Linked DNA regions of Homo sapiens. The protein of the gene in region 3 interacts with the protein of the main gene of each other region in a pairwise test. Each region holds a gene or a part of one and is shown on either strand. Other genes may lie near its edges.

Region 1 (6,763 bases), on a different chromosome or scaffold from region 3:
TGCTCCACTTCTGACTTAAAATTTTCCAAGTGTGCTTTGATCTGATGACTGGAGGACTGAAGGACAGAAGACGCCAGATGCGGAGGTATGGACTATGCTGTTATGTTACATTCCTGCCTCTGCTTATTTTCATGGGTCAAGGGTTGAAAAATGTTCACCCGATGCAGGGACAGCTCATGCCTGTATTTCCAACACTTTGGGAGGCCAAGGCGGGAGGATCATTTGAGCTCAGGAGTTAGAGACTAGGCTGGGCAATGTAGAGAAACTCTGTCTCTACAGAATATACAGAAAAATTAGCCAGGCATGGTGGCACACACCTGTGGTCCCAGCTACTCGGGAGGCTGAGGTGGGAGGATCACTTGAGCCCAGGAAGTCAAGGCTACAGTGAGTGATGATCATGCCATTGCCCTCTAGCCTGGGTGACAGTGAAACCTTGTCTCCAAAAAATAAAGCCAACCTTGGCAGCACTACAGTTGTATGAAGCACATTCATGTGAGACAAAGACACAGGTAACACTTTCTTTTCTTTTTTTTTTTAGAAATAAATAGGTTTATTCTAAAATTAATCCAAATAATTGAAATTATAGGGAAGGATATTAAGAAGAGAAAAGATTACAAGACAGAGGAAAGCATAAAAGAAAATAAGGTAATTAAAACTTCAAATCAGGAAAAAGGTTCTCAAAAATCTGACTTTGCCTACCCAGGTACAGTTGGTGGCTATCAAATTAGGACTCAGTAATTACTTGTGTCACTGAGTGAAAGCTGCTCATTGCTGCCAAGAACCTACAGAGAAGGCCAAGGGGCTGACGTACAGCTGTATGGAGCAGCAATAAGCACCCCAGACACGACTTCCTAGATAAGCCAGGCCTCCTCATCCAAGTACATCCTGGATCCTCTTTCTCTCTGGTTTCCAGGTACTCAGGAACTAGGCCATTTGGCAGAAAACTGTAGCAAAAAAGCAATCCTTGGCTTGACTCTGGCAAAGTCTGAATGGGCTAAAAGCCAAAAGGAAAAGCTGGGTTATCTGAATGACAGCCTTCAGATCCTGACTAACACTTTGGAAAAACTTCTCGTTTCTTATTCATAATAGAATAAGATCTCCAGCAGTTACATGTGTGTGAAGATTATCTGAGGAGCTCTGTTAGCCCCTAAACCAAATGCAGGGTTTGAGGCCAATGCCCTTTGGTTAGACAGAACCACACTGCCCAGATGGCTAGAGACCACCCAGATAACTCAATCCATCATTAAGTTATTGTAAGCAGCAAACTGTAAGCAGAAGTGGATGATGAAGATGGAAAAAAATATAAGATAGGGCCTGTCCCTGGCAAACTAAGAACCTGAATTTCAGACCTCTCTGAAATAGGTACGACTACCACTGCTGGTGCAAGGACCAATCAGCGACCTATTGAAGTGCCTGGAAATGAGATGGATTGCTGCTTAACTGTGTCTCTTTCATTGGTCTTGGTATCAGTGGGCACACACGATTGTTTCACCACCAGGGGGCAATCTCTCACCAGGAGCCCATTCAAGCATGGCCACTGCCCCATTTGTCATCTCGTGTGTGCCCAAGTAATCAAATGAATGCAACCATCCACAGTAATTACAATTAGGGTCATTTAACTATTTAATTGCTTTTTGAGATTATTGCTGAAATTAGGAAGGGAGCATTGAAATGGGAAGGGGGAGGTTAGAGAAGACAGAGATTTAAAAGAAGCAAGTACCATTTTCCAAGTATAAAACTCGTAATATTAAAAGTGACATAGCAGTATATTCACATGACTACTTAAGTCTAATGCAGAAACAAGACAGTACAGTTTTTGCAGAGGCCGATGTGACATCTGCATGCGACATGATACTATTAAGTGTCTCTACCCACCTCTGCTACAGAGTAGCTGCTATATGCACACATACACAAAAATACACAATGAAAAGCCTACAAAAGTGTTAAGTCAAACTAAGGCTCTTAATTGTAAATTAAAGTGGCTACAGTAGGTCCCTTTGAAAAACACCATCTCCCCTGGCACCAATGTTGTCACAGCACAGAGGAAGCGAGTGGCTCGGGGTCTGGTTCTGGGGAGACGCTCTACAGGGGCACATGCTTCTCCATCTTGGCAGCTGGCAAGCCACAGTGGTGTCTGCTGGGTGGCTCTGGGTTCCTGGACCTCATTCAACATAATGCACTGACCAAACAGCTCTGACCACAGCTACTCTCAAAGAGGTGCCTGCCAGGTCTCCCTCTGACACACACACATACACACACTACCCACTCTTGGAACCCACAATGCACTGCTGGGCAAACAGGAAAAACACACACACACACACACACACACATAAATGCCACACCAGCCCTGAATGGCGTGGCCAGCTAGTCACAGTTGTTGGGTCAGTAGTACAGTGCTCAAGAACAATTCAGACTAACATGCCAAGGAGCCTGAGGAAAAGTCTGGTAGTCATGGCTCTCCCAGCCAGCATTCCCAGTGGGGGAAACTAGAAGACACCAGCCTGGAGAGGCTGAATATTCAGGAGTCCCTGAGATGGGGAATGGAACAGAGGAAAGTGTCTTTTGACTCATCTTAAGTACTCCCCTCCCCAAATAGAAACCTCAAAGACTGATCCATTTCCCCTAGGGCCTGGGCCAGGAGTAGCTCACTGCTCACTGCTGAGGAGAAAGGCACAAGATATAATGTCATAAGAGCAGGACAGTGGCTCAGCCTACAGAGTTCCCTATAGGGGAAAGAAGGCAGGAAATAGGCGCAGGGTCTGGTCCTGTCCCTGCACCACCCTGAGCAGCTAGTCTTGGGAAGGGATTACAGGCCCTGGGCCATAGGCTGCTCGCCATTCTGCTTTCCTATCCTGTTTCTCTCCCTGTGCTGCTCCCTTTTAGCCAGGGCTGAGAAATGTTCAGCACCTGAGGCAAAACTGCCATAGTACCTCTGAAAGCTGAATCAAGGGGGAAGAGGCAGAAGAACACACTAATAGAGAAAATTTTCCTTGCTACGGGTGCTCTTTCACACCCACCTAGGGTAAGTCAAGGCAACTTGTGAAGGTGCTTTGAGCTGTTCCTTCAAGCAAACACATTTTCATTACATAATGGCTTAACGCAAGGGTGCAGGGAAGGACCACCACCAACTTTGGTGACATATTTGAATCTGGGTGTTCATCCTACTCTGATATTCAAAAAAGCATAGAAAAAGGTCTGATTTCTGCTCATCACCAGCCCAGGATAGGGTTCAGGTGTGCTCTGACCACTGCCAATTCAGGAAGGCGGCACCATGGCCAAAAGCTCCCAGATTATTTGGAAACCATGTTTTCTTCCTAGTCCATGGTAACAAGAAAAAGCCAATGGAAGCATCATTCCAAACAATAATCTCCAAAGATGGTGGCAACCAAGTGTCAAATGGGGACTGCAGGCACAGAAGAGACCACCCCAAACCCTGCCTGGGTGGACGAAGCAGGTATGCTAGAATAGTCCTGTCCTGCAGAATAGGGAACGGCAGCTTGGTCGATCTGTGCCCTGGAAAAAGAAAATGAGTTGCAATAGAAGTGACTCTAAGACAGACAATGAACCTACTCTTAAGAGAGACAGGGCCAGGCACGGTGGCTCACGCCTGTAATCCCAGCACTTTGGGAGGCTGAGGCGGGGGGGCGGGTATCACCTGAGGTCAGGAGTTCAAGACCAGCCTGGCCAACACGGTGAACCCGTCTCTACTGAAAAAGAAAATTGAAAAATTAGCCAGGCGTGGTGGTGGGTGCCGGTAATCCCAGCTACTCGGGAGGCTGAGGCAGAAGAATCGCTTGAACCCAGTGGGTGGAGGTTGCAGTGAGCTGAGATCATGCCACTGCACTCCAGACTGGGCAAAAGAGCAAAATTCCATCTCAAAAAAAAAAAAAAAAAAAAAAAAGAGAGAGAAGGCTGAAAAAGCCTCCTGCTTAGAGTATACCTCACACCCAGCTGAGGAAACATCTGTTATGTAAACGCCTCCTGCCTGAGATAACAAAGAAGCTCTAGCTATCTCATAAACTGTACCCCAGCTTCTCTAAAGAATCAGGACAGGTCAGAGCTACCACACAATGTTTAAGTAAAGTTGAAAGCTAGAGAGTTTAGAAAAGGAAATGGTTAAAACAATTCCTAGGGTAACATTTATAACAAGGGCAAAATCATTATGTAATGGAATTCTCTGGGGTCTTCAAATTAAAAACCACAAAAGGAAGATAAGAGGAAGAACAAGAATCCTGAGGCTCAAGCTGTCTCATGGTCTATCTTGAGTTGTGCTCTATGGAGCAAGACCAGATGTCAAAGTTGTGCACGGCCTGTTCCATATCCCAAGAACCTTCTGAAGGCTGGAATCCCCTTGAGACTAGAAAGGGTCCAAGTTCAGTGGGGTTTTGGAGAACCATTCATCTGGCTGCCCTGGGTGACAGTGTCGGTGCTGTACAAGCTGTCCAAGAAGACTGAGGACAATTCTGCAACCATATTCCTGTCAACAGTTGTCTGGGCCATGCCATAGATGGCACCCTACAAATCCAAAGAAAGAGACATTATTAGTGAGGCCAGGTCCAAAAGCAAGAATAAAACTGCAGCAATGAGCCCCTTCTCCCCGAGTCCTAGCTTCGCATGTGCACTGCCCTACCCCATTTCCACCTAAGGCATCCCATCATTCTATCAGAAAAACAGCTGGCATAGTCAATTTTTCACAGGGACTTTCCAGTCTGCCTTTCTGCATAAAGGGACTAGCCTAAGAAAATTCCAGAAAAAACATGTTTACTATCTTTCCTGTGACAAAATTTTCTTTTCAAATGGACACTACCACCAGCTGCTTTTATACAGAAGTCTCTAACTTACAAGGTACTTTATAGTGTATCTCATTTGAGACTTCAGCAACCCTAAGGGGTGGGTGATGCAGAGATCATCAGCTCCAGTCAACAAATAAAAGATGTCTGTGGCAAAGGGGCAGAGGCAGGAACAGACTCCGGGTCATATGATTCCTTCAAACTCTCCACCAACACCTAAATTTCCAAGAGAAGAAAAAAAACTCCAAGTGTCCCTACCATTCCTGTGGTCTTCGCTTTAGGATTCTTCATGATTTGAGTGACAGATTCTCGAATGTCCTTTAGGAATTGTATAGCTACTCGTTTCCGGGCGTGTAGTAATGTGATGCAGAAATGAATACTAGGAAAGAAGAGACAGAGAGAGATGAACCTTGAAGAAAGAAAAAATGTTCTAAAATGATGCAGCCCCAAATACGGGAATTTCCTGGTTGCCCTTTCACAATATTTCTGACAAGTGTAGTCATCCAAGTTGTTCCTAGTCCTGGGAATCTCGGCTCTCTCATGCTTGGGGTGTCAGGCATGGGCTGGCCTCAGAGCTTCTCGGCATGACTGAGAACCATGCTAAGAGGATGAACAGTGTTGGCTGCTTTGTCCCACCCATCCCCTCACAAATTCCACCACCATTCCTTCAACCACGTCACCATCAATGAGACACTTTTATCTTAGATAATCAGCCCCCATGTGCTCTCATGGGGACAGGGCCACATGGCTGGGGTCTTAAAGGACTTCAGGGCACAGAAGAAATTCTACCTCGCCCTGGAGGAATTTAGTGGGGTTTACTGGAATTGTGAAGAGGGAAAAAGATAGTCCAGATGGGACTGGCAATGCACCAACGTGTGGAAGGCTAAGCTGTACACAGAGGACATGAACAGACCTGTACTCAGTTGGAGTGGTGCATTTACTCAAAGGCATCATGGAAGATTAGGTTAGAAAAGTCTAATAAAGAAGGCAGTAGCAGGCCTGAATGATTAGAGACCCCCAGGAAGATCTTGAACTAAATATTAGCCAGGTAACAAGTATTTTATAAGAGCAATTTGATGGCTGTGTACAAGATGGATTGGAGAGTAGAAAGGCTAGAGACTGAGAGAAAAACCTCATGACCAACCACTGGTCTAGGAGGCTGTCACCTAATTCTGCCAGAGTTTAAAGCTAATGGTCTTGTTCTTTGTATCTAATAATTCCAGGTGGCAAGAGAGAAATCCTTTATATACTACAGTTGCTACTAACGTGCTAGCCTCTAGCAGTCAAACTCTATACTTCAGGTTACTGTACCACCCAAGTTCTTCCAAAATCATGGAGCAAAATAAGGGAAAGAGGCTTCTTCAAGCTTACCTGGGTGGGAACTGCAACTGGTTCAAGTTCCACCCCTTAGCAGTCATCAGGTTTGATAGTCGGTAGATGTCAAAATCACGGGATCCCAGAGCAATGACTGACAATTGGGGATTCCCAAAAACAAAGATGCCTTTGATATTTTCCAGTCTTAAAACAAAAAAATAAATGAAGGAAGAAAAAGTAAATTCAGTCACATACAATCCCCTGGTCACTATCTCTTTAATCATTCAAAGTCTTCCTTATAATGAATGCAATCTAACCCTTTGGGCTTTAGTCTTCTCATCTTCAAAAAAGAAGAGGGCTACACTGGATCAGTGGTTCTTACTGAGATCAGAATCATAGATGGAACAATAAAAATGGAATTCCAAGGCCCAAACCCCATCTAGATCTAATGACTCAATCACTGACTTCGAACCTGTCTACCCAACTCCCAATTATATTCCCCTAGATGCTTCTGAGGCATGAAAGATGTACTAAAAAAATTTCTGGAAAAGTAATCTGCCCATCTCCACAGTTCTAAAAAGTCATATGTAATCCCTAAAGCAAGAAATGGTATAGCAGGTCTTAATAAATGGCCCTATCAGAGCTATAGGAGGACCTTT
Region 2 (7,026 bases), on a different chromosome or scaffold from region 3:
AATGGGGATAATAACGGTACCGAGCCCAATGGAATATGAGGACTAAATGTGATAATACATATAAAACACTGGACACAGTGCCTGACACTTAGTAAGCATCCAATAAATGTTCACTATTATTACTGGGCAATAAAATGGTATTTATTGAATAAATAAGTAGGCTATGTTGCATTATAAAAAGGTCACTGTTGGGAAGGAGAAAGATCTTGATCCTATTCCAACTCTGTTACTTTCTAGCTATGTAGCTTTGAGTCTATTTCTTCATCTATAGATGGTTAAATAATATCTAACTTATAGAGATGATCTGAAAATTAAATATAAGGTGTATCAAATACAGTACTACAGCATCTTAAAATGGTCCTATACTAAATGCTCAATAAATGGTAGTGAGTTTCATCATGTGCAGACGATATCTGGTTTCAAATTCCTGACCTCAATGATCCACCCGCCTCGGCCTCCCAAAGTGCTGGGATTACAGGCGTGAGCCACCATGCCCAAGTGCAGGTGATGTCCAAATTCATGACTTCAGAAAATGGCCTATTCATAAAAGCCAGTTCATAAGGGAAAAGGAGACAATTTCAAGGGAGAAAATATATCTCGAGAGAGAGAGCTGAAGAATGTTGCCTCGTTTCCTGGAAGCCAAGATCAGAATACAAGTAGTTTCCTTCTCTCCTTGTTTCCAATTTTGCTGGGCTTCTCAGAAAAAGTAGTCATAAAACTTAATCTGGGAGTTCCAAGTTCAACCATCCACCCAATGCTGCCAATGAACTCAAAGCTTTAAGAAAATTGAAATGGTGTTTCCCTTTAGCAAAAAAGATGGAAGATACCATTAGAGTGTGTGAGTGTGTGAGTTAATGGGAACTTTAGCCAAAATCTTCCCTTGACTCTAACAGTTCTATAAGTTGAATAGCCACTGGGTAAAATACGGTTAGTCCTGAATGAATTTCATTATCCTTTCACTAACAAGTTTCTAGCTCTTGTATTATGCAATTTGGCAAATACTTTCATAATTCACTTTGAATACACTTTTTTTAAACAATCCTACACCGTCATATGGAAGTTAACCATCTTCTCAGGCTAAATATCGCATTTTGTATTCTACATATATTCACATATTTGTGTATGTATATAGTATATGAATAAATATCACTTTGTAGTTTAATCTCATACACCAGCCTTTATAGCACCTTTGAATATTTAGATGTCTTTCTTTAGATGATCTTTGGTAATATTATGACTTTGTTCAGATTTAGTATTCTAAACAGTGATACTCTGTAGATAACAATAAAAGAAAAGGTAAAATAAAAGAGAAACACAGATTACAGGCCTGATTATTTCTTTCTTGCTTGGCTAGTGTGACGGGAAGACAAGAGCACTGGGCTAGGGACAAAACAACCCATGCACATTCATTTGCACTATAGTGACCACCTACAAAAGTTACGTAACTTCTGTAAATCTCAAAGACTTCTAAATATATGGAAAAAATGCCTTCAAGGCCTATCTCCCAGAGTTATTGTGAAGTTGTTTGTAAAACCATAAAGCAAAATACAAAGCTAAAGTTTTCTTTCTTGTTATTTGCTACTTTCTAGCCACTCGGATTTTTTTTAAGCCAACAGCTATATAGTCTCTTTATAAAGTCATTTTACTTTAAATTGAAAAAATAAAGAAGAATTGACTGTTTTACCATTGAGCACTAAAGAGATCATTTCTACAGGTGCTAATGTATTAATTTTATAATATATGAAATTCTTGCATTGCGGTAAAAAGAAAAGCACATAACATAAAATATACCATCTTAATCATTTTTAAGTGTACAGTCCAGTATCATTAAGCATATCCACATTGTTGTGACTCTCTGGAACTTTTCTATCTTGAAAAACTGAAACTCTATACCTATTAAACAAGTCATCAGTTCTCCTTCTCCCCAGGCCCTAGCAAACATCTTTCTACTTTCTGTTTCTATTAATTTGACTACTTTATTTATTTATTTATTTATTTATTTATTTATTTATTGGGCCAGGATCTTACTCTGTCACCCAGGCTGGAGTGCAGTGGCACAATTATGGTTCACTGAAGCCTTCACCTCCCAGGTTCAAGTGATCCTTCTCCCTCAGCCTTCTCAATAGCTGAGACTAGAGGCATATGGCACCAGGCCTGGCTAATTTTTAATATTTTTTTGTTGCTCATGTTGGTCTTGAACTCCTGGGCTCAAGTGATCCTTGAGCCTCCACCTCCCAAAGTGCTAGCATTATAGGCATGAGCCACTGGGCCCAGCCCGAATTTGACTACAGTAGAGGGTCCATATAAGTGGAACCATAATGCCACATACATAATTATCTTTTTGTGACTAGACTATTTCACTTAGTAACAAGGTTCATCTATGTTGTAGCACATGTCAGAATTTCTTTCCTTTTTAAGACTGAATAATATTCCATTGTATGTATATACCACGTTGCGTTTATCCATTTATCCAACACTGGACATCTGGGTCGTTTCCACCTCTTAACTACTGTGAATAATGCTGCTATGTACGTGTGTGAAAAAATATATAAAATTAGTTAAAAACACACATCTGTGCTCAAGTTTTTGTTTGATAAGTGAATAAAAATGAAAACAGAAAAGCTTGTTTCTTGGAATTCTGCAGTTCAAAATCACAAATGCTTTTATGTGATTATACCTGACAGTGAGTAACTGATTTCCTCAGTGGACTAATGCATTTGTCTTTCAAATTCCAAAAATTTTACTCTAATACAATATAATCATAAATAAAACATCATTCTAAGGTATTTGTTTACAAATGGTAATATTTCATGAAGAAAAATATATGGCAAAAGATTTTAAAAATTTGTATTTTGATTAGTTAAGGAACATACTTATACCAAAACCATTTAGTTTCTTTTGTTTTCTCTTCTGTAAGACCTACACATTTTTATCAATTTTACAAAAATCTTAAGCCATACTTCCAAACTTAAGTAAAAAATGCTCATATATAAAGTGTTTATAATAGAAAATCATTTGTAATGATGTATGTTAAAATTTCACATTTTCTATTGGAAAAATATGAAGACTGAGTTTAGACTGATATCTAGGCTGCTGTTTTAGGAGATGTTATAAGGATTCAATAAACTAAGCCTTAAAGGTTATGTAGTTCAACCCTCTCACAGCACAGGTAGAAATAAGAGACCCAAAGAGTCATGAATAACTTGCCTAAAACGACATAATATGCCATCCTCAAAAGCTGAGTATCACAAAATAAATGTAATATATAATTGAGATAATTTTATTCTTTAATATTATTGCTACTGTTTTCGATAAAATAGTTGGCTCTTGGTTATTCAAGGAATCCAGATAATTAAACAGGTATAGTGTTACAGCAACAAAAGCAATGTTATTTCAAAACAGACGCTTAAATATCTGTATACTTTTGTTGCTCTATTCCTCTACCTATTTCTTATAAAGCAAATTTTAAAAAGTAAAAAGAACTAAATAAGAATCTGTTATTTGTACTATTTAGGCAGTGTTGATAACAGTTTTGCTGGAAAAAAATTTTATTTACTATAAAGAATGAGGTTTCTGAATCCCTGATAAATGTATATTTATTTGAAATTGCTTTACCTATTCCAAGAATAAAGAAAGTGATATCTATATCTAGACTTTTAGAGTCAGGTAGGACCTTACAGATTACCTAATTTAACCCTCTTAATTTACAGAGAACAATGCTGAGAATTGGGAAGGCAAAGGAACTTGTCCAAACTCTCATAGCAAATCAGCAGCAGACCAGGACTAAAACCTAGGTCATCTAAATCCCAGTCCAGAATTCTTCCCATTCACTATACCACACTGCCCTCCTCACTTCCACACAAGGCAATGCTTCTGCACAGACAATGAAGAGAACAATCATATCTGATTTTATATGTCTTGGAATCTTCATTTTTTATCTGTTTTGTGCTTCTAAATGACTTAATGGCCTGATTTACTCATTAAATTTAGTGAACGGCAACTGAATTAATGACCAACTCATAAAAAATATCATTCTTTTAAAGAACTCTCTGGCCGGGCACAGTGGGTCGTGCCTGTAATCCCAGCACTTTGTGGGGCTGAGGTGGGCAGATCACATGACACCAGGAGTTTAAGAGCAGCCAGGGCAACATGGTGAAATCCCCACTCTATGAAAAACAAAAACAAAAACCTTCTGTAATTTAGTGTGGTCTAAAGCCTTATTCATGTTTAGCAACCACAATATATCATGATTCAAAATTATGCTAGATTAAGAGGGTCATCTCCTGATACATATCATATCAACAAATATATGTGATAATCTCTGATGTTGGAGAGAAAGATACAAAGGAGTGAAGTGGTAAATAATAACGAAAGTTTAAACAGTTTGACACTAGGGTCATAGAAGGAATGGCACAGGAAATACGTGAGTAATTACTAAAGACAATGAGCTCCTGTGAGACAACAACTTGCTCCAGGGTACCATAAACAAGAAAGGCTTTGCAAAGGAGGACTATTGTACTGGGTTCTGGTAAAAGGTATCTGGAGAGGTAAACAGGGAAAAGGTGGGTAAAGGCAAGGGGAATGGTGGGATGAGAAACATAAAGGTGGACATGTACACATTTTACTTAAGGGTCAGTGAGTTATCCCAGTTGGCTAGAGCTGCAGGTCTTTGGGCAGGGGAATACTGAAGGATCAAGCGAGAAAGTTAATGTGGACCTTGGCTTTAAAAGGCCATGTGTTTCCTCCCATCTCCTTTCTGAAATCCAAACCCACATGATTTTAAAATATATATTCTAATAGAAAATAAAACAATAGTACCTTCGTTTGTTAACAGGCAAAATGTCCTGATAATGAAGACGAAAAAAACATCTAAAGTGAAAAAAGATAGACTGTTACACTACTCATTTCGGTGTGCTAATATATGCCTAATTCAGAATAATAAGTGGCTTAACAAATGAAAATACTTACGTTAATAATGTTAAAGCATTTACAGGTGACATTATCCACAGGACTTGAGCAAAAAAATAAGAAAACAAATTGAATTTTTAAAGGATGACCAAGTGCTCTGTGGCTCTTAAGTTTACAAAAGTGCCATCTGATATAATTATCTGCATAATTCTTAAAACTTTGTCTTCCTAAGCCAAAGAATCTAAGTTAAAATAGTTAAAACTGTGTCCTGACACCCGTTTTAGAACCTGCATTGTTTACCCTCCTGGAATTCCATCTGCAATAGGATGTTTTACTTTATGCTATCATTGGGGAATGGATAAGAGCATTAGCTATTAAAGTCTAGCAGTCTACCACCAAAAATCAAACTGTGGTGAAGGAAAAGACAATAAAAACCAAACCAAAACAAAAAACCATAAAATGGCATGGACATCCCAGAGGCTTCAAGGAGCTTATGAGTAAAGGATAATTAGGACGTCACTGAAAACAGTGACCAAGGGAGATCCCATGTTAGGAGCTGGTGATGTTTCTTTCTTTCTTTTTTTTTTTTAATTAGCTGCCTACAACTTGGAATCAGAATGTCTTTTCTCAAAGAAACATTCAAAGAAAACTGCATTACCAGGCTTAGCCAAACAAATAAACCTATTTTAGATAATAACATAGATGAAAAACTAAACATTAACTGTGACGAATAATAAAATTAATGTAAGCATACTGTACAATACTTAAAATACATGCTCCTCTGGGACCTAGCAATCCCTAAGACAAACCTGCTTTTACTTCAGCTTATTTGAGCTGAGTTAAACATCCCCTCCCACTAGCCCCCAGCTTCATCAAACCTGGATGACTCACTGGCCTGACCCTTAAGCACCTTCCCAGTTTCCATGGTTTTCAGTCAAGCTGTTCCCCTTGCCTTTGACACCTTTTGCCCTAGTATGCCTCTCCAAATACTCTGACAGTACTCACATCAACTCCTCATTCAAGGGTAGAGGGAAGTAAACTGTGGTGAAACAGCTAAAATATTCTAAAAACAACTGTATATTCCTTTCACTTAGGAGAAGTAGAGATGAGAAGAGCAGGGAAGGACTTTTCTGATCTTCCCTAGGCCCCAGCTAGTCCTGAGTCTGACAGATCACACTGCCTCCAGACCATGATATCAAGGAAAGGGGAATGACAGTGACCCCCTAGACTTTGCAAGATGCATGAGGGCAGTGACCAAGTGTCCTCCTTTCCTTTCCAGAGCCTAGAACTGTGCCTGTACATGGCAAGTAAATACGGAAAGAAATGGTATCATAAGCCTGGCTTCCACATTTCGTCATCCTACAGCTCTCCTCCCTCTTCCTGTACCACTCATCCCTTCTTTCTGACCCCTCCAAAGTTAATTCAAGGACCCAGCAAGTTATGTTCTAACTGCAACTACCAAGTAGACAATTTTTTTCACCAAAATGCAGGGTACTATATCTGCGAAAAGAGGGCCAATGCCAATCATTACCACCCCCAACCAACAGACAGCACCCATACCCTGTGAACAACAGCTATTTAGAAACAAATGGTCAGAAGATACATGGCCTCACAGGAGACACCTGGCTTTACCGTAAGCATCCTACTAACTCTCTAGGGTGTTTATATGCTAAATGTCAGGTATGCAAAAAAGCTATTAAACATTTATTAAAAGCATGAATAAATGAATAATGTAGATAAGTTGGGTATTCATAGATTGGGGAATATTTAGATTCATCAGTTTAAAAAATGTATATACAACTTTTATTAGATGTATACGTTGAGCCTAGGACTCCAATCCTAATAATTTAAATGTACTCATGAAGTGAAAGAATAGAAGAAAAAAACTAACATGATGACATGGAATACCTACTCTAATACTAACAACTAGTATAAAGTCCTACACCAGCCTATACTTTAACATAAACCAACGCTAATTTCCTCGTTCAAAATGTCTACAAATACAGAGAAATAAAAATTATTTTTGTTGTTTTTCTAAAAGTATAGCTCTTTCAAACTTTCAATTCCAATGTACAAAGTGTTAATACTGTAGTAAAAGTAACATTTTTGTTGTTAACA
Region 3 (7,442 bases):
ACAAGAAGGCCAGGATGGCTGGGGAATGAGGTGGGAGAAGTGTGAAATGAGATCAGAGGAGCTAAATTCCGTAGGACCCCTTGCAGGCCATTAGAAGGACTCTGGCTGGTACTCTGAGTGTGATGGGGAGTGACAAATCTGATCTATGTTTACCTAACTGCTTGGTTGAGAATAGACTATAAGGCAGTAAGGATGGAAACATGGAGACCATGGAGGAGGCTATTGCAGTAATCAAGAAGACAGATGATAGTGGTTTGGACAAGGGCGGGATCAGGATTTGCTGACAGCTTGGATGTAGAGTGAAAATAGAGGAGTCGAGGATGACCCTAGGATGTCTGGCCTGAGCAGATGGGAGGATGGAGTTACCATATTCTGACATGGGAAGACTGCAGAAAGAGAAGGTTCAGGATGGCGTGACAATCAGGGGCTCAGTTTTAGACTTATGGAGCTTGATAGGCCTGCCTACCAGACAATAAGGAAGGGATGTCAAGCTGACATGTGGATATATGAGTTTGGAGTCCAAGTGAGAGATCTGAGAATCACCACCAAACACATGACATTTATTATTTATTTATTTATGAGATGGAATCTCACCTGTCATCCAGGCTGGAGTGCAGTGGCATAATCTCAGCTCACTGCAACCTCTGCCTCCCGAATTCAAGTGATTCTCCTGCCTCAGCCTCACAAGTAGGTGGGACTATAGGTGCATGCCACCACACCCAGCTAATTTTTGTATTTTTTAGTAGAGATGGGGTTTCACCATGTTGGCCAGGATGGTCTCAAACTCCTGATCTCAAGTGATCTGCCTGCCTCGGCCTCCCAAAGTGCTGGAATTATAGGTGTGAGCCACCAGCCAGGCTATTTTTAATCCTTTTTAATAGAAAAATTCAAACCCATACAAAAATAGAGAGAATGGTACAGTGACTCTCTATGTACCCAGAATCTAGCTTCAACAATCATTACTTTCTGCTGTTATTGGATAGTATTTAAAGACCAGAAACTGGATGATAGCTCCATGGGAGTGAGTGTGGAAAGAAAAGAGAAGAGAGTGACCAAGGCCTAGGCTAATTCAGCAAGAAAAGATTGAGAAGGTGGGGAGGAACCAGCAAAGGGGACTGAAAATAAACAGCCAGTGAAGTAGGAGGAAAACCAGATTATGGTAGCCTGGAAGCCAAATGATGAAACAAATAATTCCCAAGTAACAATTTAGTTACAGTATGATCAGTGCTGAAAGAAATAAACAGTGTGTTGACCCAGCATGGTGGCTCACACCTGTAGTCCCAGCACTTTGGGAGGCTGAGGCAGGAGGATCACTTGAGTCCAGGAGGTCGAGGCTGTGGTGAGCCATGTTTGTACCACTGCACTCCAGCCTGAGCAACAGAGTGAGACCCTGTTTCCAAAAAAAAAAAAAAAAGAACAAAACAGAAAAAGTATTGTGCGATGAGAGTGTATGACATGAGAATTAACTTAGTGTGGGGGCCAGAGAAGGCCTCCCCGAGGCAGTGACATTTAAGCTGTTGCCCTCCCTCATTCTCCCTGTGACCAGCTAAAATCCTACCTCCTCCATCCTGCTTCCACTCAACTAGCTCCTCCTTTCTGGGATGGCTTAATTGAGGACAGTGTGGCAGCCATTAGTGGGGTTTGGGGACACAGATGAGAAAGAAACAATTCCTGCCTTCAGGGAGCTTGCCCTGTAGCAGGGAGACAGACAAGCAAAGGACTTCATCACCATGAGGTGAGTGCTGGGATCAGATAAGCACAGTGTGAGCCTTGAGAGAAGCAGGGAGGGACACATACCCAGTCTGGGAGAAGTCAGGAAAGGCTTCCTGGAGGTGACATCTGAGTGGAGCATGGAGTAGAAGTTGGACCTCCAGGTTGCCTCCTCTGTCCATGCTCTTCAGCTTGGCTTGCACTTGTCAGGTGTTAACTCTTGTCCACATGCTTACATTTTAAAATTTGCCTGAAATCTCCAGCCCAGATTAAATCCTGACCTCAGTGCAGAGAATCGCACTTGAGGCCTGGCATTCGCGAGGACCCTTTGCAAAGATGTTCACAGGGCCATTTGATAGCTCTTTGAGGAACAGGTGGAAGCATCCTGTTTCGCCGCCAAGCTTTCCTTACATAAATTTTCAAGTGAAGGTTGGTATTCCCACCGCCGGCGCCCTCGGTTTCTGGAGGCGGCACGTTTGGCCACGCGCTGCGAGGCGCCTCTGCCTTCCCCGCCTGGTGGCTCCCGGCAGGGGCGGGCAGGGCACGTGAGGGCGTCTGCGCCCCCTCCTGGCACTCGGTGCTGCTGGCCGCGCGGGCTGCCCGGGAAGGGAAATCCCGGAGGAAGCCATTGTTGTTATGTCCCCTGTTGTCGTCATCGGCTGAGCCGTGCCAAGAATCCCTTTCCCCGCATAGGACCCCGCAGTTTCTCCCCATTCTCGAGCTCACCCGCCAGGGTCACTACGGGCCAGGCTGCCGCATCCGAGCCGCGGAGTGCGCGGTGGCCGCTGCGCATCCCAGCTCCAGGGTTCTCAGAATTGGGGAGAGCCCTAGGATGGGTGCGACGCTTAGAAAACCGACGGCGCCGGGCCCGACGTACCCAGAGCCCTGGCATAGCTAAGCAGGGACTTGGGTTCCACCTTGGCTCTGATAAGTAGCCCGAAAAGGTGAACTTGGCCGGTGGTTTCCTGCTCTCGCCGCCTCAATTTGCTTCCCTGTGACCCGAGGAGAAACAGAGGTCCGTCAAGTCCCGCGCCTTAAAGGGAGGTTAGAGGGAGAACGACCCCCTCGCTCCCTTACCCCCTCACCCCTCATGGGCTTTGGACTGGGGAGGCTGGGGGCTGGCGCGGAGGAGAGGCTGGCGCAGCCGGGGGTGGGGACGGCGCGGAGGGCGCGCGCAGCCCCTGTGGCTCTCCCGTGCCGCTCTGCAGCAGCGGCGCAGGACAGTCCCTTCGCACGCGCCGCCCGCACACCTTGGCACGGGCCAAGCCACACTCTCCCCCGCCGGAACAGCCAGCCCGCCGCCCAGCTTTCCTAATCCGTTTAAGCCTCACCTCCTCCGCGAAGCTCTCCCGGGTTAACCCCATCACTTCCAACCACTGTATCTGGCACGTGCTCCCGTTTTTGTTTTGTTTTGTTTTGTTTTTTTGCAAGTGCACTCTTGGGCTCGTTGGAATAACAATATCGAGGGTAGGTGTCTGTCCCCAGAAGCCTAAGTTCAGGACGCCCAGTGTGTTCTGAAGGATGCGGCTGATGAGTTTCTTGCCTGGGCTCACTAACCATTCCCACCCTCCACGCTTCCCCATCCCTGCTCACTCGCTCCCCTCCTCCTACGGACCCTCCTCTTCACAGACTGTCACAGCTTCGAGTGCACAATCCTCTTCCCACCCCCTCCCATTCTACAGTGGCGGCAGGTGCGAGGGGAGAGAACATTGAGCATTTGAAGCTTCGACTTGAGGCTCGGCCACCGACTTTGCTGTAAGTCGCTCCCTCCCCTGGGTTTTAGTTTCCCCCAAATGAGGCAGAATGCGGTAATGTCCAGGAGGGCGCTGCAGGTGTGGAGGATGGGAATCACTAGCTGACACGCTGCCCCGCTGCCCCTCAGCCCCTCTCCATAAACAGTGGCCGTGACACCAGATAGGCGGCTCGACTTCACTGGACCCCCGCCCGTAAGAGAACTGTGAGCGCTCTCCAGTTGCCAGTGCGGCGTCCAGAGCCGGGGAGGGAAAGAGGATGGGGGTCCAGGCCGGGCCCTTTATTCACAGCCTGCATGACCTTGGACTCTTCTTCCTCTGGGTCTCAGTTTACTCATTTGAAAAGCAGGGATAACAGTGGGTTGAAGGAGAGCAGGAAGCTTGTCACCCAATGTTTCTGTATAAAAATAAATGATCATTCGCGGTACAGTGATTGGCAGCAGACTGGGCTCGTGAATTCCGACCCCAGATTCTCCGTAAAGGGGTTTCTGGAGTCCCTGGAATCTCCCTGTGTCACCGCTCACCTCATGTTCTTTCTGGTTCTCTGGAGATAGGTAATGGGTCCGCTCCTGTTTCTGCCTCCGCGTGAGGGTTGCGGCCACAGGGTGACGGCGTGGTGGGCGACACCCCCGCGCAGGCATGCACAGAGTGGTGGTCGTTGGGCGAAGGTTGGTCGTGAGGTTCTTGGGCTTCAGGAGCGAGGCTTGGAACCGGTGGGCGGGACTGTGTGCAGAGGTGGGGCTAGCTCGCCTGGGGGACGGGGCTGTGGAGATGAGGAGTTCTCCAGAACTCGGGTGGCGGGGCGCTCCCGGGCTCTGGCGCGGGGAAATGGGGCTTTGGCAGTGGGGGCGGGGCTTAAGGGTGGGGAGAGGCCGGGGAGCCTGGAGGCGGAGCTTGGGGAGCTCGCCCCACGCGGGGCGGGGCTCCGGCGGCAGCGGGATCTGCAGTTCGGACTCCGCGCGCCACAGTCGCTGCAGTTCGCTCCACTCTGGTGGCCCCGCCGCCCTGCGGGGATCCCGGGGGTCGGCGGGCTGCTCGGACTTGGCGCGGGGCCGGCCCGGCCTCTCTCTTCCTCGGTGGGGCCTAGACGGTCGGGGCACCGGGAACATGGAGCCCTCTCCAGCCGCTGGGGGCTTGGAGACCACTCGCCTGGTGAGCCCCCGGGACCGCGGTGGCGCCGGAGGCAGCCTGCGTTTGAAGAGGTAGGACAGACCTGGGCTGGCCCTCGGCCCGGGGGCGCCACCCTACTACCCTCCGTCCATTTCGTTGTCTCTCTCGGCGCGGGCCCCGGCGGCCGCCCCAGCGCACCGCGGGTCCCTCGCTCCGCTGCACCCCGCTTCATCCCCTCTGGCCACACGGAGCGCCCAGCCCTACACAGCCGGCTACGCCTCCTCCCGGCCGCCTGACTTCCTCGGGTGAAGCGGCCTCTCACTCCCCTCCGGCCGGCGTCCCAGGCCGCCGGACCCCTCCGCCACCCCCGCGGCGCCTGCCTTCCCTGGGAGCAGCTGCCGCTCGGTCGGGCCGGAGCCCTCGCCCGGTGCGCCAAGGTCCGCATTGCCCCGGGCCCAGGGCGGGAGCGCCTCGCTGCCCAGGCTTCAGAGCTCCCTCTGTAGGCCCCGGGGGCTCCCCTCCGCGCGCCCCCTCCAGCCGCGGCCAGCTGTGGGCGCCGGGGCCCGAGGATGGGCCGGGCTCCGCGCGGGTCTTGCGGGCCCCTGGGGGGCGGGCGGCCGCCGGGAAGCGAGGGGGCGGCGAGGAAGGAGCAGGTGCGGTCTGGGCAGCGGGGGTATTCCCGGCTCCGCACAGACGGGGCCGGGGGCGGCGAGGTGTGAAATGAGGCGCGCGGAGCGGCCGGGACAGCGGGCCGGGGGTGGCAGGAGAACCGCCAACGCGCCCCGCCGGCCCCCGCGCCTGCCGCCACCGTCCACCTGCCCCTCTGAGCGGCCGTCCGACCTCCCTGCCCACCCCCGTGGGCCATCTTGTCTGTCGGCTGACCGTCCGTTTGTCTCCGGAATTTGGCAGGGTCTCCGGCTTTTTCTCTTCCCCCACCTCTCTCAATCTTTCTGTTTCTCTCCTAGTCCCTTTCCCTTTGTCTCTGACGTGGTGCTTCTGTGTGCTTCTCGCTCTTTCTTTGGGTGGGGGCCTTCAAGCTGGGTTGGGGGAGGGGGTGAGCAGAAGAGAGCTGGACCCCTTCCTGCAGGGGCCTGCAGAGACGCGGTGGGGGCTCTGCCGTAGGCCTGGCATCTCTTCAGGTGTCCTTTTGATTTTGGTTCAGCCCCTGCTACGTCACCCCTCTTCCCCGCTCAATATCGGTTGTTGGTTGGGGGTTTCGGAGGGCCAGGGAGAGGAAACAGCCTTTCCTTGTCTCTAAACAGCATGTAGCCACCCCACATGCCCACACCCCCACACACCAACAGCCAGGCTTCCTTAGTGCCCAAATTATGCAGAACAAAAGGGAGCAGCCTGTTGATGGGTGGCCACCTTGATGACTGGCTGTGCTGTGCCTTACAAGGCCAGGGAATGAATGTTGCCCACTGCCCCCAAAGCCACCCAGCCTCTGCGCTTCAGACTCACATCTCCAACTCCAGTCCATCTTCACTCATATGACCATTAGTCACCGAATCCTGCAGCATTTTCTGAAAGGCATTTCCTAACCTACCTGCCCCTCCAGGGAAGCTCTGGCCTGGTTTGTTCTAGACCCCTCCATTTCCTCTCTTCTCCTCTCTTCCTCCCATCAGCAAGGTCATCTCAGTGCTCAGGAGATATTTGTTCAAGCAGTCAGTGTATCTCCCTTTATGTTCCTTTGAGCCCATCACTTTCCTCCTCAGCCCTCCCCTGACACTTCACGCTTAGACTCCAAGCCACAAACCTCGTCTTTGTCATTCTACATGTCTGGAACACCCTTCTCCAACTAGGTCTCATCTCCTTAAACATACCTTTCTCTGTGAAGTTCTCCGAGCCCGCTGTGAGGGAGTGCTCCCTTCCCTGCACCCCAAAGTGCTTTGTTCATAACCCTCCTAGCATCAACCTGTCCTTATGTAGTAAGCCATTTGTTACAATCTGTCTTTCCCACCAGACCAGGCTTCATTATGTGTGCTCTGCCTGGTGCACCTCATTGAATGAATGAGGATCGGTTTCACAGCCTCCTTCACCACGCCATCTCCTCTGGAAACACATCCAGAATCATACACGCCCAGATTCTAAGTCTTGGATGGGGCTTTGGAAATTCAAGAAATTAATCTACCAGTATTTCAGTTCTCTGTACAAGCACCAAATGTTCCCCCTACCTCCCTCAAAACTCAGTTCACCCACTTGGCAGAATTGTCTTTAGCCAGAAGGCCCCAGACATCCCGCCCCACTTTGCTGCTATGATCACATTTCTATCTGGAGCCATCGTTTTTACTTGTGGGTATTCTTGTCACACCTCCATGAGTATTTCTAGTACTGTATTTTCTATTCAGGTCCTGAATTCTGTGGAAAATTCTGTCCTTGCTGGGTTCAGGTTGGGTAGTGGTGGGGCTGAGAATTGGACCAGAATGGACTTAGCACTCAGCCTGACCTCACTCAGCCTCTGGCATCCCCAGGTGAGGTCCCAAGCCCCATTCATTTGTCAAGGGAGACTTATGGTACCATGCAGTTAAGGTGGGCTCTGCTGGGTGCTTATAGTCGGACTGAAGTCCAATTAACATGCTCCTCCCACTGCCATCCTCAGCCATAGCAGGCTGCACCCCTTCCTCCCATGACAACCCCAGCTCTGGAATCTAGCCATCAGTTCTCTGTGCCCGGAATCAGACTTTTTGGCCCCAATGTCCCGCTCGTCTCTTAAAGGGCCACACTTCAGCTTCATGTCTAGGGAGGGCGGGGGCAGGATCCAGGAGTGGAGGTTCTGGGAGGTGGGCCTGGAAAGGAGGCACACCAAGGCCAGGAACACATGCTGAGTCCCACTCCACACTTCACTCCACCTTCCCTTCATACTGCCTTGGC

What was found. Proteins that work in one complex are often made in the same cells at the same time.
Region 1: the proteins of SLC30A3 (region 3) and SGPL1 interact in binary tests that used the Homo sapiens proteins (3 or more experiments, as listed by UniProt).
Region 2: the proteins of SLC30A3 (region 3) and ELOVL4 interact in binary tests that used the Homo sapiens proteins (3 or more experiments, as listed by UniProt).

The regions. Positions count from the first base shown.
Region 1 is NC_000010.11:70,874,947-70,881,709, reverse strand, and holds the end of SGPL1 (sphingosine-1-phosphate lyase 1), read right to left. Parts: intron 6,309-6,763; coding exon 6,162-6,308; intron 5,170-6,161; coding exon 5,049-5,169; intron 4,516-5,048; coding exon 4,375-4,515; 3' UTR 526-4,374; downstream 1-525. UniProt on the Homo sapiens protein: Cleaves phosphorylated sphingoid bases (PSBs), such as sphingosine-1-phosphate, into fatty aldehydes and phosphoethanolamine. Elevates stress-induced ceramide production and apoptosis.
Region 2 is NC_000006.12:79,937,529-79,944,554, forward strand, and holds part of ELOVL4 (very long chain fatty acid elongase 4), read right to left. Parts: intron 1-7,026. UniProt on the Homo sapiens protein: Catalyzes the first and rate-limiting reaction of the four reactions that constitute the long-chain fatty acids elongation cycle.
Region 3 is NC_000002.12:27,260,033-27,267,474, reverse strand, and holds the start of SLC30A3 (probable proton-coupled zinc antiporter SLC30A3), read left to right. Parts: upstream 1-4,427; 5' UTR 4,428-4,568; coding exon 4,569-4,663; intron 4,664-7,442. UniProt on the Homo sapiens protein: Probable proton-coupled zinc ion antiporter mediating the import of zinc from cytoplasm into synaptic vesicles and participating to cellular zinc ion homeostasis in the brain.